2 separate regions of the Homo sapiens genome follow, and region 1 is linked to region 2. The links come from fine-mapping of genetic effects on gene expression. A gene starts in region 2. The other region holds a variant in brackets. All regions are shown on one strand. Distances are from middle to middle. Region 1 overlaps PALD1 (phosphatase domain containing paladin 1). Region 2 holds the start of PALD1 (phosphatase domain containing paladin 1).

Evidence for each region.
Region 1: its variant is fine-mapped to the expression of PALD1 in testis (GTEx, PIP 0.99).

The regions. Positions count from the first base shown.
Region 1 is chr10:70,545,704-70,548,711 of GRCh38, forward strand. PALD1 (phosphatase domain containing paladin 1) reads left to right here. Exons shown (of 20, transcript NM_014431.3): 18 at 1,603-1,743. Among named protein-coding and RNA genes, the nearest start is that of PRF1, 56 kb to the right of the region's middle. The variant A/G (reference allele first, on the strand shown) is at 1,363.
Region 2 is chr10:70,477,646-70,480,391 of GRCh38, forward strand. It overlaps PALD1 (phosphatase domain containing paladin 1), which reads left to right and starts at 1,122. Exons shown (of 20, transcript NM_014431.3): 1 at 1,122-1,414. RefSeq lists silencers at 738-807, 1,008-1,457 and enhancers at 2,452-2,746, 2,738-2,746.

The DNA.
Region 1 (3,008 bases), 68 kb after region 2:
CTGGGATTACAGGTATGAGCCACTGCACCTGGCTGGGGTGGGGAATTATATCAGATGAGTGGTGTCCAACTCTGAGCGTCTGCGCAGTGGCTGGGGGCTGCTGCAGGTTAGGAGGAGGGTGGGGAGGCTTCTTACACCCCCTCCTCACCCCTCCAGCCCTAGTACGTGACAGCTATCTGTTTTATAGATCAAAGTTCTGCATGAGGCCTCATTTGAAGCAGGATTTCTACTGCTTAAAAAATAAGCACCTCGACCAGGCGTGGTGGCTCATGCCTGTAATCCCAGCACTTTGGGAGACTTAGGCGGGTGGATCACCTGAGGCCAGGAGTTCAAGACCAGCCTGGCCAACATGGTGAAACCCTGTCTCTACTAAAAATACAAAAATTAGCTGGGTGCGGTGGCAGGTGCCTGTAATCCCAGCTACTCGGGAGGCTGAGGCGGGAGAATTTCTTGAACCTAAGAGGCAGAGGTTGCAGTGAGCCGAGATCTCACCACTACACTCCAGACTGGGTGACAGGGCGAGACTCCATCTCAAGCAAAACAAAACAAAACAAAACAAAAATAAGCACCTTAGATCAGCTTAACATTCCATGGGTGCATTGGGGTGGTTTTTGTATCATGTAATACAAAGCATACAAAATGGCAATTTGGAGTCACAGTCGTGCATTTAATATGTCTTGAACATCTTAAATGACTTATATTCCCATGGTTTTTTTTGTAGAATTATTTCTAATGTAAACCACTTCTTGATTGTGGCTCTCCTGTGAGAACTGTGTGCACTCTGTGATGTCTTTGGCTGTGGCAGTCCCGTTTTCCTAGTAACTCTATTGATGTGCTTGGACACTGAAAATCTGTGTAGTGTGCAAGACATTAAGTTGTGGATTGGTGGGGCTTATGCCACAGTTTATCAACACTTGAAAATACTGGTACTTAATATCTTCTTAAAGAACAATTTGCCTCCAAATTTTAAGCTGGAAAGTTAATGGAATAACTTTCCAGCACTTTGGGAGGCCAAGGGTGTGGATTGCTTTAGCCCAGGAGTTCGAGATTAGCCTGGGCAACATGCCAAAACCCCGTTTCTACTAAAAGTACAAGATATTAGCCAGGCGTGGTGGCATGGGCCTTTAGTCCCAGCAGCTCAGGAGGCTGGGGTAGGAGGATCACCTGAATCCAGGAAGTTGAGGCTTCAGTAAGCCCTGATCATGCCACTGCACTCCTGCCTGGATGACAGAGTGAGACTCTGTCTCCAAACAACAACAACAACAACAACAATAAATGTCAATGGAATAACTAAAAAGGAATCATAATCCATGCCTTTTTTAGATATTCGGTACAAATTCAATGTCTGTGTACTGATCCTCA[A/G]CACAACCAATAAATCCCAATTGTGGAGGAAAAAGAAAAGCATCTGGGTAGCCTGGCCCCGGAGATGTTCAGGATCCCCCTGTCCTCCCTCAGTCTGAGAACTGAGGAGCAGGCAGGGCTCTCTGTTCAGCGCCTGGGCCTTAGGCCTGGTGTGGCCTTTTGGTGAGGGTGCAAGCCTGGTGCTTGGGCTGAGGGCTCTTACCAGTTTTATGTCTGCTCACCCCCCTTCTCTGGCCCCAGGTAGTAATGAAGGTGGTGCAGCTGCTACCCGATGGGCACCGTGTGAAGAAGGAGGTGGACGCAGCGCTGGACACTGTCAGCGAGACCATGACGCCCATGCACTACCACCTGCGGGAGATCATCATCTGCACCTACCGCCAGGTGAGCCCCCACCCCACCCCACCCCACCCTGCCCCAGCCACCCTTCCAGGTGTGCACAGCCAGGGAGTGGCTGATGTGGCTTTGGGGTTGCTAGGGGTCCTAGGGGCCCCTCCTTGGCTCGTGGTCACTTTTCCACCTTCTGGAAGTGGAAGTGATCCATGAGATGGACACATCCCCAGCCCCGACCCACTGGTATGGGTACCAGATTCTGGAGTGGTAGGGGAGATGCATGCAGGGGCCATGTTCAAAGCATTCAACAACTGCTGTGGCCCTAGGACCAATCAAGGATGTGGCCAATCAGAGTGAACACCCAGGAGCCCTGTGGTGCCAGGCGTTAACCCTCTTGTTTCTGGGTCCTGGCGGGGGGACCAGAGGTCCCAGACAGGAGTCAGGTAGTGGGTGGGTGGAGACCCTCAGGGTCTTGGGGTGGCTGTTTCACAACTAGCACGGAGGCTGTCATCTCAGGACGTGGGTATGTCTGTGCTGCCCTGGGGCTGGGGCTGGCTCCCAGATGGGGTGTTTTTTATCTGTAAAAATTGTTTTTAAATAACTCATTACATTATAAAAATAAAGTTTTGGCCAGGTGCAGTGGCTCACCCCTGTAATCCTAGCACTTTAGGAGGCCGAGACAGGCAGACCACCTGAGGTCAGGAGTCAGAGACCAGACTGGCCAACATGGTGAAACTCCATCTCTACTGAAATACAAAAATTAGCCGGGCATGGTGGCAGGCGCCTGTAGTCCCAGCTACTCGGGAGGCTGAGACAGGAGAATTGCTTGAACCCGGGAGGCGGAGGTTGCGGTGAGCCAAGATCGTGCCATTGCACTCCAGCTTGGGTGATAGTGAGACTCCTCAAAAAAAAAAAAGTTTCATAATAGTCCAGATTTCATGTAACCATCTGGATTTTCAGCCTATCTGGAAAGAATGTGCCCTCAAGCCTGCCTGGGTCCCCAATACTCCCTGCTCTGTTGCACTCGGCCCTACTGGACCAGTCCCATGACCACAGGCTAGTGTGGGCTCTGGAGTTTTTGGCCTGGGTCTCTGTGTGGAGTATTCACTTCTGTTCCTCTCTGGCCCATTGAATCTGATTGGCTTCTGGAACAGAGGCCGGTGCTGAGTGGGAGGGGCAGTGGTGGGAGCCGGTGGGTAGGGGGTGAGGATTCCATGGTGCTGAGAGAGGGCTATATGTACCAGCCATGTGTTCCCCACTGCTGGCCAGCAATTCTCAGAAACAGCTCTTGCCTGTGGCCCCTGCAGAGGGGGCCT
Region 2 (2,746 bases):
AATGAGTGATTTCTCTTGTCTTCAGTTATTCTTAGGGGTCATGGGGAATGTGTTCCCCTCTCCCAGCCCAGCGCTCTCCAGCCTGACAGAGGTGGGGCCTACACTGCCTGCATCCTGGGGCAACCCCAGCTCGCCGAAATCCAGCTCCAGTCCTGAATGGGGGTGAGGCAGGTGGTAACAGGTGAGAAAAAAGGATTTCCCGAGTGTGGAGCAGCGAGAGGGAGGAAGTGACTCACCAACCACAACAAAGCCTATCTCTCCGCGAGGAAGCACAGCGAAGAGTGAACGCACGCACGTGGGTGCGTTCACCCACGTGCTCGCGGGGGCGTGCGGGGCCGTCGGAGTGGGCCGGGCTGGCTGCCGCCTAGTGCTAGTCCGCGCGTGTGGGGTGAGGAGTGGTGGGGGGGGCAGGCCTATGGTGCGGGTCACTGCCTGGAGCCGCATGATGGGTGGGGGCGGAGGGACCCCTCTCCATCCAAAGCTCTGCTCTGCTGTTCCCCTCTCACCTCTGGGGGCCGAGGGGCGCGTTTCCTTAGGACCCCGGGGCGTGGGAGAAGCCCCTGCTTGGGGGGACCGTCTGCTGTTTAGGGGCTCCCCTTCGACACGTGGGAGGCAAAAGTGCAGAGCGCACCATCATCCAGCTCCGGCCGCACTGCACAGCGAGGCCGGCCCGGAGCCCGGATGCTGGGCTCGGTCCCGCCGAGGCTCGGCCTGGCTGTAAAGCAGAGGGGGGCGAGGGAAGCCGGGCCAGCGGGTGTCGCGGGTAGCCGGCGTCCGGGACGGGGTGTGGCGCCCAGAGCGCTGCTGCCTCTCGCAGCCAGGAGGCTGGATGTCGGGTTTGGGTGTCTTCCAGAAGGAGCCGCACTAGCGACGAGGGAAGAGGAACTGGCTTCCCGGGCAGTCTCCCCCGCCCCAAACTTTTCCTCCTCGCGGAGGGTGGGCGGGCGGAGGGAGGAAGCGCAGCCGGGGAACGTGGCGCCCGCGTTCCTCCCGCCCGGGGGCTGCGGCTGGGCTGAGTGTGTCTTTAAATCTGAGCCCCCCGCCCCTCGCGGTGGGGCCGGGACTCGCGGTCCGGGCGGGGGCGGGCGCGGTGATTGGCGGCCGGGTCGGGTCCGCCCCTCGGCGTTGGGTAGCGGGGCGCTGGGGAGCAGCGCGGCGCGCACGGGCCGGGGCGCGCAGGTCCCGTCGCCGGTGAGCACGGGCTCCCTCTCGCGTGGCCTCGCCGGGTCCGCCTGGCCTGCCCACCTCCGGAGCCACCTCTGCCCCCGCATGGGCTGGCGAAGTTGGGAGGAGCGAGCTGGAGCCAGAGCGCGCGCCGGGCGCGCCCCGTCGCTGCCTGACTCGGCGCCCGCAGTTCGGGCGCAGCACGCCGGCCGCAGGAGCACGGATGCCCCCCGGAGCCGCGGGCTGGCAGGTACCGAAGTGTCCTGCCCTGGGGCTGGCGAGGGGAGGGCAAATCTGGAATCCCCCGGGCACCCCCCAGCCCGAGGCTGCTCCAGACACCAACTCCCCATCCTTTGGAGAGGTGAGGTCCTGGGCCTTCACCCCACACCCGCTCAGGATTGGTCCCTGGGAGGCAAGAGGGACTCACAGGGAGCAGTTGCTGGGTGGTTGTGTGTGTTGGACCCTGGGCTACCCCCTCTCCCGAGTTCCCTGGGTTTGGTGTAGGCATGGCCTGGTGACAATTCCACTTTTCATTGCCAGACCTGGGAGCATGGCCAGGAGCTAGGGTTTCCCGCGAAGTTAGGGGGAGATTGGGGAGAGGGAAGCCGCTTCATGACCGAGATGGGGTCCTGGGACTCATCTCTAGGGGGCGTGAGGCCCTCAGACCCAGGACGAGTCCAGAAGTCTCAGCGGGCACAGGCTTTGATTCTTGGCCCAGTCTGGCCCTCTTCCTCTGTAGGCCCGGGTCTCCAAGGAGAGTACGTTTTTCAGTTTCAGAGGGTTTTCCTGAAGGGGCAGTAACCTGTCAGAGAGAGAGTGGCCTATGGGAGACCCGGCTCCTGAAGGTGGCCGGGATGGTTGGAGCCCTTTCTCTTGGGTTGTCAGAGATGGGAGTAAAGCTTCATGGCCCAGGGAATCTTCTGGGCATCTCTACTCTCCCAGCCAGAGGCCCAGGAACCAACTCCTTGGCTTCTGGGTAGAGTAACCTGAACCCAGTGGCCGAGCACCTCTTAAATGCCAGGAAGGGCACTGGGCCGTGCCCCTGGAATGTGTGGATGGAGGAGGATTTGGAGGATTCTGTCCTCAGGAGGCTCAGCCCCTGGGGGCAAGACAGGACATAAACACACAAAGTTCCCCGATACAGGGTTTCAATACCAGTCCTGAACTGGTAATAGTGGAAAGCCAAGAGGCTACACACCATTAATTGCTATGTGAGTAATGTAGGCTGCGAGAGTGCCAGGGCAGCAGAGATCCAGTTCCATGCAAGCAAGCAAATGTGCTGAAATGTTCCAGCTCCATGCCCGCCCTTCCTTATTACCTTGCTCCAAGGGCAGGGAGCAGCAGGGGCGCTGAGGAGGTTCTCCTGCACTCATCCCCACCCACTCCCAGGTTTGTTTGTTTCCTGCTGGTGGATTTCTGAAATAACCCATTTGGTTTCTTGGCTTGGGCTGAGCACAGGACACTCCTAGTTGCCCTGTGGCTCCTGGGGTTTGGGGTCTAGAGCCAGCCTTGTAGGAGGTTCAGAGGTAAGCAGGAGGAAGTCCTCACTTCCTTTCTGAAGAGCCTCTGTCGCGGGGGGTTG